Linked DNA regions of Homo sapiens: region 1 is linked to region 2. The links come from fine-mapping of genetic effects on plasma protein levels. A gene starts in region 2. The other region holds a variant in brackets. All regions are shown on one strand. Distances are from middle to middle.

The links. PIP is the chance, under the fine-mapping model, that this variant and not a neighbour inherited with it causes the effect. Protein levels are from the aptamer-based SomaScan assay of Sun 2018.
Region 1: its variant is fine-mapped to the plasma level of the PCOLCE2 protein (Sun 2018, PIP 0.95).

Annotation. Positions count from the first base shown.
Region 1 is chr3:142,341,839-142,347,075 of GRCh38, reverse strand. The region is part of intron 33 of XRN1 (5'-3' exoribonuclease 1); the gene reads left to right. Among named protein-coding and RNA genes, the nearest start is that of XRN1, 100 kb to the left of the region's middle. The variant TA/A (reference allele first, on the strand shown) is at 1,059.
Region 2 is chr3:142,886,391-142,891,634 of GRCh38, reverse strand. PCOLCE2 (procollagen C-endopeptidase enhancer 2) reads left to right here and starts at 2,552. Exons shown (of 9, transcript NM_013363.4): 1 at 2,552-2,821; 2 at 3,858-3,966. The coding sequence starts at 2,739. It overlaps LOC124909443 (a long non-coding RNA gene), which reads right to left and starts at 3,371. Exons shown (of 2, transcript XR_007096122.1): 1 at 3,176-3,371; 2 at 868-2,044. RefSeq lists a silencer at 2,560-2,609.

The DNA of each region.
Region 1 (5,237 bases), 540 kb after region 2:
CCACCATCTAAATTTAGAACATTTTTTGTCACCTGAAAAAGAAACACCATACCTATTAGCAGTCACTCCTCCAGGCCTTGGCAACCCATAGTTTACTTTCTGCCTCTATGGATATGCCTATTCTAGACACTTCATATAAATGGAATCAGAAAATATATGAACTTTTATGACTGGCTTCTTTCACTTGTGTATTTTCAAGATTTATCTATGTTGTAGCATGTTCAGTCGGCCCTCTGTACCTGTGGGTTCCACATCCATGGATTCAACCAACTGAGGATCAAAAATATTCAGAAAAGGCAGGGCACGGTGGCTCATGCCTGTAATCCCAGCACTTTGGGAGGCCAAGGCAGGCAGATCACTTGAGCCCAGGAGTTCAAGACCAGCCTGGGCAACATGGCAAAACCCTATCTCTACCAAAAATACAAAAATTAGCCAGGTGTGGTGGCATGCACCTGTAGTCCCTGCTATTCAGGAGGCTGAGGTAGAAGGATTGCTTGAGCCTGGGGGGCGGAGGTTGCAGTGAGCTAAGATCAGCCACTACACTCCAGCCTGGGTGACAGAGTGAGACCCCTTCTCAAAAAAAAAAAAAAGAGGATGATTGTGTCTGCTCTCAACATGTGCACACTTTTTAATCTTATTATTCCCCTAAACAATACAGTATGACAACTATTTACACAGCATTTACATTGTATCAAGCATTATAAGTAATCTAGGGATTATTTAATATATAAAGAGTATGTTTGTAGATTATATGCAAATACTACACTATTTTCTGTAAGGGACTTGAACATATGTGGATTTTGATAGCCACAGGAGGGTCTTGGAAGCAATCTTCCACAGATATGGAGGGACAACTGTATCAGTACTTCATCCTTTCTTATGGCTGAATAATATTCCATTGTATGAATGCTACATTTTATCGGTTCATCCATTTGTAGACATGGAGGTTGTTTCCACATTGGGGCTATAGTGAATAATGCTGCTATGAATATCTGTGGAAAAGTTTTTGTGTGAACATATGTTTTCAGTTCTCTTGGGTATATGCATATGAGTGAAAT[TA/A]CTGAGTCATATAGTGGTAACTCTTAAGTTCAGCTTTTTGTATAACTGCCGAACTGTTTGGATATTACCATTTTACCTTTGCACCAGGGATGTGTGAAGGTCCAATTTCTCCACATCCTTCACAACATTTGTTATTGTCCCTCTCTTTGACAATAGTCGTCCTACTAGGTGTGAGGTGGAATGTTCTTGTGGTTTTCATTTGTAATTTATTAATGACTAATAATGTTGAGCATCTTTTCATGTATATCATCTTTGGAGAAATGTCAGTTCAAATCCTTGGTTCATTTTTTAATTGGATTTTTTAATCTTTTTTCTTGGTTTGTAAGAGTTCTTTATACATGCTAGATATTACATGCTTCTTGGATATGTGATTTGCAAATATTTTCTCCCATTCTGTGGGTTTTCTTTTAACTTTCTTTATACTCTATTGAAACACGAAAGTTTTAAATTTTGATGAAGTCCAATTTGTGTATTTTTTCTGCTTTGTCTTTGGTTGCTTGTACCTTAGGTGTACATCTAAGAAACCATTCCCTAATCCAAAGTCACAAAGAGTTACAGTGTGTTTTCTTCTAAGAATTGTATAGTTTTAGCTTTTAGATTTAGGTCTCTTTCCATTTTGAGTAAAAGTTTATACATGGTATGATGTAGGAGTTCATATTCATTCTTCTGCATGTGGATATCCATTTATCCAAACATTGTTTGTTAAAAAGACTACTCTTTCCCCATTGAATTTTCTTGACACCCCATTGAATAGTCTTGGCACCCTTGTCAAAAATTATTTGGCTATAGAGCCAGGCATGCATCTGTAGTACCAGCTGCCCAGGAGTCTGAGGCAGGAGGATTGCTTGAACCCAGGAGTTTGAGTCCAGCCCGGGAAACATATTAAGACACCATCTCATTTTTAAGAAGTAATTGACTGTAGATGTATGGGTTCATTTCTGGACTCTCAATTCCATTCCACTAATGTATATGCCCGTCCTTATGTGAAATACACAGTCTTGATTACTGTAGCTTTGTTGTAAGTTTTGAAATCAGGAAGTTTGAGCCCTCTTTGTTTTTCTTTTTCAGGATTGTTTTCTCTATTCTGGGCCTCTTGCATTTCCATATGAATTTTATGATCATCTTGCCTATTTCTGCAAAAATGGCAGCTGGAATTTTTATAGGGATTGCATTGAATCTGTAGGTTACTTTGGGTAGTATTGTCATCTTAACAGTATTAAGTTTTCCTGTCCATGAACACAAGATGTCTTTCCATTTATTTCGGTCTTTAATTTCTTTCCATGATGTCTTGTAGTTTTCAGTTATGCAAGTCTTACACTTTTTTGTTAAATTTATTCCTAAATATTTTACTCTTTTTCATGCTTTTTTCAATGGAACTGGGTTTTTAATTTTATTTTTTGATTGTTCATTTCTGTTATAGATATAAAACTGATTTTTGTATATTGCCTTAACTGTTTATTAGCCCTAATTTTTTGTGGCTTCTGCAAATAGAGATAGTTTTACTTTTTCCTATATAATCTCAATGCCTTTTATTTCTTTTGTTGCCTAATTGCTGTGTTTACAACAGCTAGTACAGTGCTGAATAGAAGTGGTGAGAACATGCATCCTTGCCTTTTATTTGTTTTTTATCTTTTATTTTTAATTTTTGTGGATACATAGTAGGTATATATATTTATGGGTTACATGAGATATTTTGTTACAGGCATGCAATGCATAATGATCACATCAGGGTAAATAGGGTATTCATCACCTCAAGCATTTATCTTTTATGTTAGAAACAACATAATTATGTTCTCTTATTTATTTAAAAATATACAATTATTTTTATTATAGTCACCCCATTATGCTAGCAAATACTAGGTCTAATTCATCTATTTTTTTGTACCTGCTAACCATCCCCACTTCCCACCCCTCCCCCCCACTACTCTTCCCAGCCTCTAGTAACCATCCTTCTACTCTATTTTCATGAGTTCAGTCGTTTTTAATTTTTAGCTCCCACAAATAAATGAAAACATGTGAAATTTGTCTTTCTGTGCCTGGCTTATTTCACCTAACATATGATCTCCAGTTTGATCCATGTTGTTGCAAATGACAGGATCTCATTCTTTTTTTATGGCCGAATAGTACTCCATTGTGTATATGTACCACATTTTCTTTATCTGTTCACCTGTTGATGGACACTTAGGTTGTTTCCAAATCTTAGCTGTTGTGAACAGTGCTGCAACAAACATGAAAGTGGAGATAATCTCTGCAATATATTGATTTCCTTTCTTTGGGGTATATACCTAGCAGTGAGATTGCTGAATTATTTGGTAGCTCTATTTTTAGTTTTTTACAAAACCTCCAAATTGTTCTCCATAGTGTTTGTACTAATTTACATCTCCACCAACAGTATACAGGGGTACCTTTTTCTCCACATCCTCACCAGCGTTTGTTACTCCCTATCTTTTGGATAAAAGCCATTTTATCTGCGGTGACATGATATCTCATTATAGTTTTGATTTGCATTTCTTTGATGATCAATGATGTTGAGCACCTTTTCTTTTTTTCTTTTTTTTTTTTAAGACGGAATTTCGCTCTTGTTGCCCAGGCTGGAGTGCAATGGTGCGATCTCAGCTCACTGAAATCTTCGCCTCACTGGTTCAAGCGATTCTCCTGCCTCAGCCTCCTGAGTAGCTGGGATTACAGGCGTGTGCCACCACGCCTGGCTAGTTTTTGTATTTTTAGTAGAGACAGGGTTTCACCATCTTGGCCAGGCTGGTCTCAAACTCCTGACCTCGTGATCCACATGCCTCGGCCTCCCAAAGTGCTGGGATTACAGGTGTGAGCGCCTGGCTGAGCACCTTTTCATATACCTGTTTGCCATTTATGCCTCTTGTTTTGAGAAAAGTCTATTCGAAGCTTTTGCTCATTTTTTAATGAGATTATGAGATTTTTTTCCTAGAAAGTTGTTTGAGCTCCTTATATATTCTGGTTATTATCCATCTTGTCAGATGGATAGTTTGCAAATATTTTTTCCCATTCTGTGTATTGTCTCTTCATGTTGTTGATTGTTTCCTTTGCTGTGTAGAAGTTTTTTAACTTGATGTGATCCCATTTGTTTATTTTTGCTTTGGTTGCCTGTGCTTGTGGGGGACTACTCAAGAAATCTTTGCCCAGTCCAGTGTCGGAGTTTCCCCAATGTTTTCTTTGAGTACTGTCATACTTTAGGCTTAGACTTAAGTCTTTAATCCATTTTGATTTTTGTATATGGCAAGAGATGGAGGTCTAGTTTCATTTTTCTGCACATGGATATCCAGTTTTCCCAGCACCATTTATTGAGGAGACTACTCTCTCCCCAATGTATGTTCTTGGTGCCTTTGTCAAAAATGAGATGTGTGGATTTATTTCTGGGTTCACTGTTCTGTTCCACCGGTCTGTGTGTTTGTTTTTATGTCAGTGCCATGCCATTTTCATTACCATAGTTCTGTAGTATGATTTGAAGTCAGGTAATGTGATTCTTCCAGTTTTGTTCCTTTTGCTCAGGATACCTTTGGCTATTCTGGGGTTTTTGTGGTTCCATGTAAATTTTATGATTGTTTTTTCTATTTATGTAAAGAATTTCATTGGTATTTTGACAGGGATTGCATTGAATCTGTAGATCCCTTTGAGTAATAGGACATTTTAACAATATTGATTCTTCCAGTCTGTGAACCTTGGAATATCTTTCTCTTTTTTTGTGTCCTCTTCAATTTCTTGCATCAATGTTTTATAGTTTTCATTGTAGAGAACTCTTTGGTTAATTCCTAGGTAATTAGTTTTATCTGTAGCTATTGTAAATGGAATTACTTTCTTGATATCTTTTTCAGATTGTTTGCCGTTAACATATAAAAATGCTACTGATTTTTGTATGTTGATTTTGCATCCTGAAACTTTACTGAATTTATCAGTTCTGATAGTTTTTTGGTGGAGTATTCAGGTTTTTCCAAATATTGTTTGGTTCCCATCTGGAAAGTCAGTACAATGCTGAAAGTGGAATCTTGACGTATCCAGCTATTACTATATTTGGATTTATCTCTTTCTTTAGCTCCAGTAATATTTGCTCTATATACCTGGGTGCTCCAGTGTTGGAAATATATTTTTTTACAATTGTTTTTATACAGTTGTTATATCCTCTTGCTGAATTGACCTCTTTATCA
Region 2 (5,244 bases):
CTTCAAAGTGCACTTGAGTCTTGATATGGTTTGGCTGTGTCTCCACCCAAATCTCACCTTGAATTGTAATAATCCCCAGGTGTCAAGGGTGGGACCAGGTGGAGGTAATTGAATCGTGGGAATGGTTTCCCCCATGCTGTTCTCCTGGTGGTGAGTGAATGCTCATGAGAGCTGATGGTTTTGTAAGGGGCTTTTCCCCTTCTCCTATCACCCTGTGAGGAGGTGCCTTCTGCCATGATTATAAGTTTCCTGAGGACTCCCCAGCCATGTGAAACTGTGAGTCAATTAAACTTCTTTTCTTTATAAATTACCCAGTCTCGGGTATTTCTTCATAGCGGCGTGAGAACAAACTAATAAAAGTCTCTCAATTTTAACACATCAACTTCTCAGGACATTTAAGGTTTATAATTTTGGTCAGAACTGTAGTTCCAAGTCAAATATGTGTTTTTAAGAGCCAATAATATGGGTTTTAGTAAATTCTAAAATCACATGGTAAAATCAATGTCTTATGAGTGTCAACAACAGAATGATTGGTGTTAAAATCCTAACTCTTTAGTGAGCATATGAACACAGTCATCAATCTATAAATTAAGAAATGGCTGTGTATTTTAGTTCAAATAGTTTCCTATTTAGGCACATTTAATACTTTGTTATTTATTTTAAATTTTGAAAACTTAGCTTAGTCCTGAATGAAGTATTTTCTGGTTTACGAGGACTGCAAATCATTACCAGAAAGTGAATTGAGCAATATTTCCCTTTATAATTTAAAACTATGACTTTCAAATAAACAATTATCTAAAAACACTTATGCTATTAGATAGCATATTCTTGAAATGCGTGCAAAATCAACAACCATTTATTCTCCTCTTCCCTGTTTTAAAGACATTTTTATTGGGTTGAGAGTGTTTCAGGATATAAAGCAGTTTGCCAAATTCTGTCACCCTTTTTTTTAATGTCATAAAGGGTGTGGTGCCTGTAGAGAAGTTTTGAAAGTTGTACTTTATGATGTTTTTGCCTTCACTTTTTAAAAAAATGGTAAGATAATCTAAGTCCTGTCCGTATATTCTGGTTCCTAGTATAGGCTTCAGGGTGCACTCACTATGAAAAGTCAGAATATTTCCTGTAGCCAGTTTTACTTACTTCCTTGCCAGGAGTGTTTAGGTTCTTTTTTTTTTTTTTTTCTTTTTTGAGATGGAGTCTCACTCTGTCGCCCGGGGCTGGAGTGCAATGGCGTGATCTCGGCTCACTGCAACCTCCGCCTCCCGGGTTCACGCGATACTTCTGCCTCAGCTTCCCGAGTACCCGGGATTACAGACGCACACCGCAACACCTGGCTAATTTTTTGTATTTTTAGTCGAGGCGGGGTTTCACCATCTTGGCCAGACTGGTTTCGAACTCCTGACCTCGTGATCCGCCCGCCTCGGCCTCCAAAAGTGCTGGGATTACAGGCGTGGGCCATCGCGCCCACCCGTGTTTAGATTCTTAACAGCTCATTATTAGAAATAAAGTCTCGATAAGAACTACTTTAATACTTAATTTTCTTGCTTAGAAAGGTGAAAACAATTTAGAAGGAACAACGTGAGGCATCAAAGTTAAGCTGTATCTCCCATAGCTGGTGATTATTAAAAATCTCTATGAATCTAGTCTGTTCCTGTCATTCTTTTATTAATCCCTGGTTATTGGGAAGCTCTTAACAAAATAAATGTTTAAAATTATATTTCTGTAATTAAGTAAAAGAGAGTATTGATTCCACAAGGCTAGAATTGTTCGTCTAAGAAAAACGAATTCTCCGTAAATTTTAACCCGTTAATACCACAGAAAGATGCTGTTGGAAAGGTCTAAGAACAGAGAGATGCAAGCAGAGAAACACCATTTTCAGAACATGACATGGGATGGTGAGATTTGCTGATTTGGTTCCGTCTTCATTATCTGACATTTAATGACAGTTCACACAGAAATCGCTCGCCTGAAAACCCGTGTTTAAATCCCGGCACAGAGACTGTCTTCCTTGTCATTGTCATACCAGTAAAAAAAAGAAAAGTATCTAGAGAGAGAGAGAGGAGAATAAGCACAGAAGTTAAAATACAATAAAATCCCTTTTCCCTTTCTTTCCTTGGATCTGGGTTTTGAAGGAGACAAAGAAGGACCCCCAGGCTTTCCAGCAGCCAGCAAGCGCTATTACTTTTTATTTAAAAGCAACTGGGAAAAACATTCCCCAAAGCAAAACCAGAAGCCCTCCCTGAGAATCGTCTCTGGGCGTCGGGGCCCGGGCCGCTGGGGTGCCACTCCGCAAGGGGTTCCTCTTCTCCCCGGGGTCCCTGAGGGCTGGACGAGAGAGGACCCGTCGGTCCCGGGGTGCCGGGAGGAGACGTTCGCCCGCCCCACGAGAGGGGGCGGCTCTGGCCTCGGAGCCGCCCCTCCTGCCGCCGGAGAACAAACGGGATATTCAGCAGTGGCCTGTGGCTGCCAGAGCAGCTCCTCAGGGGAAACTAAGCGTCGAGTCAGACGGCACCATAATCGCCTTTAAAAGTGCCTCCGCCCTGCCGGCCGCGTATCCCCCGGCTACCTGGGCCGCCCCGCGGCGGTGCGCGCGTGAGAGGGAGCGCGCGGGCAGCCGAGCGCCGGTGTGAGCCAGCGCTGCTGCCAGTGTGAGCGGCGGTGTGAGCGCGGTGGGTGCGGAGGGGCGTGTGTGCCGGCGCGCGCGCCGTGGGGTGCAAACCCCGAGCGTCTACGCTGCCATGAGGGGCGCGAACGCCTGGGCGCCACTCTGCCTGCTGCTGGCTGCCGCCACCCAGCTCTCGCGGCAGCAGTCCCCAGAGAGGTAACGCGACCCCTGCCCGGGCTCCCTTTCTCTCCTTTCCCTTCCTCCACCCCTGCAGCCTCGCCTGCTGCTTTACTCAACCCGCTTCGGCGCGCCTGGGTGACCCAGCGCTCGACCCTGCGCTCCCGCGCGGTGCAGGCGTCCGCCACCCTCGGGTAGGCTAAGCCCGGGACTTCGGGACCCATCCTTGCTCGCGGGGCTCCCTCCTGGGTCCCCAGCCCGGCCTGCCGGATGGCCCTGCAGCTGGCTTGGCCACCACGTGGCGGGGCTTAATCTGACTTGTGTCTCCCCTCTCCTCGTGTCTATGGGGCCAGAGGGAAGCACTGGGGCCCAAATATGTGGATTTTGGTTTACCGCTGTTTTTTTTCCTTCCCCGAGAGGCTTTGCCCAGAGACGTAAACTAGGGAACAACCCTAGCGGCGCGGCGCCTAGGGAGCCGCTCCGGAAAGTTAACTCTTCGCCAACCTCTGGAAGGCCCCAGGAGCTGGGCTGTGGGACCTGCCCGGTGGCCAACTTTGGCATCACCTCTTCAGCCTCCATCAACATCAGCCTCCCTTTCGATGGGAAGCTCTGCCAATGGCGAGTGATTTTCAGAAAGGGGGAGGAGAACTGGGCATCTCTCCAAATATGGGAACGACAAACTTTTTTTATATTAACCAATTGCTTGCCTGTCTTTCTTTAAAACCATGCTTCTCATTCAGCCTGGCTCTTACCTTCTCTCCCACTCCCCCAGTTAAATTGATGTATTTACCATTTTCCTACAAGACTTTGCCACAATGCCGAGGACTTGATTATACATATATATAATCTTGTGTTATTATGATGGAGACAGATGGCGCTGGACTGAATGCTTTGTCAGGCTATAATTTAAATATTCTAGGAGCTAGCAAATTTTCAGATCCCTTATATGGTGCAAGCATTGATTAATCAACATTAACTTTTATTTATATTAATAGGCTACACCTTTCTGAAGGTAACATCAGATTGTTAGACCATGTTTCAAATTACATTATCTTTTCTTCTTTTATGTTCCCAGACCTGTTTTCACATGTGGTGGCATTCTTACTGGAGAGTCTGGATTTATTGGCAGTGAAGGTTTTCCTGGAGTGTACCCTCCAAATAGCAAATGTACTTGGAAAATCACAGTAAGCATTTTTTAAAAAGGTATTCTCCTGGAAGTGGGTGTTGGCAACAGTGTGAGGCTGCTGCCTTTTTCCTCTGGTGTTAGGATTTGAGTAAGAGGCAAATGCCTGAAATAGTGAAATGTTGGATTTACCCCAACTATTGGGAAGATTTTTATTAATATAATAGATCTAGTCGTGTCCTGCATTAGTGATTACAAAGGGCACAAGATAATGCTTGAAGGAATAAATTCTCAGAGCAGATGTGTTTCTGAAAGCCCAGTGTGACTCAGTTGAGTTTTATAGATTCATAATTAAAGCTGTTTTCAGTCAAAGGCCTGTTGTAATGACCTTCATAAGTTTTTTGTTGCTCGTGCCTTCATAAATTCCCAGTGGGAAATGGAAGATCAAAGATAGTGCTTTGACTACTCTATGCTCATTAGGAAAGGAAAAAGAAAAAAAATAAAAAAAGCCCACTTAATGTTCCTGGGTTGAAACCACCTCTAAAGGCAGTCTAAGAATAGAGAATGGGGGGGTGGGAATCTAAATAGCAGCCAAGGGCCAATAAAAAGTCCATGCTGATTAGTAATAACATAGATTATGCTGAGTCAAGATAAGCTGGATTTAGAGACAGCCATATATTTTTTAACTGATTTAGAGTCAACTAGAGTGAGTCATCTTTCCAGTCAGCATAGCATTGACTGTTACCTTCTTCACTTTTTCGTTGTTGGGAAGTTGTTTAGTAATTGAATACGTTGGTTCACTGAGAGCTTCTTTCAGTCAGATTGTGCCACTGGAGGACTTAGATTTTTTAAAAAGTAGCCCCCACTGAATGTGTAAACTAGCAGTTACTGTGTGCCAGGCATTTACCATGCCAAGTAGTTAGCAAGTATAATCACCCAGAATCCTCAAAACAACTGTATGAGAAAGTATCTATTATCATCCCTATTTTATAGATGGGGAAGCTGAGGCCTGAAACAATTATAGAAATTGACTTGATCAGACAGTCGGGAAGCCCAACTTTATGTAAAAGTAAAACCTACTTTGCAATAAGGTATTCCCACTGAGGTCATTTTGCAGGCAGATATGAGAGGTCCCCTTCCATAATATAAAACTCAGCTCTTACATGCCTTGACGGCCTCTTGTAAAATGCCAACCATGTCACAAACTGGTACAGATTTCATTATGTTATTATAGCACATGTGGCCAGGAAAGAAGTCATAGAAAATAAGTTTGAAATACTATTAACATAAATGTCAAATAAGTCTCTGAAACAAAAATAAAAGCAGCTTGATTTTCATG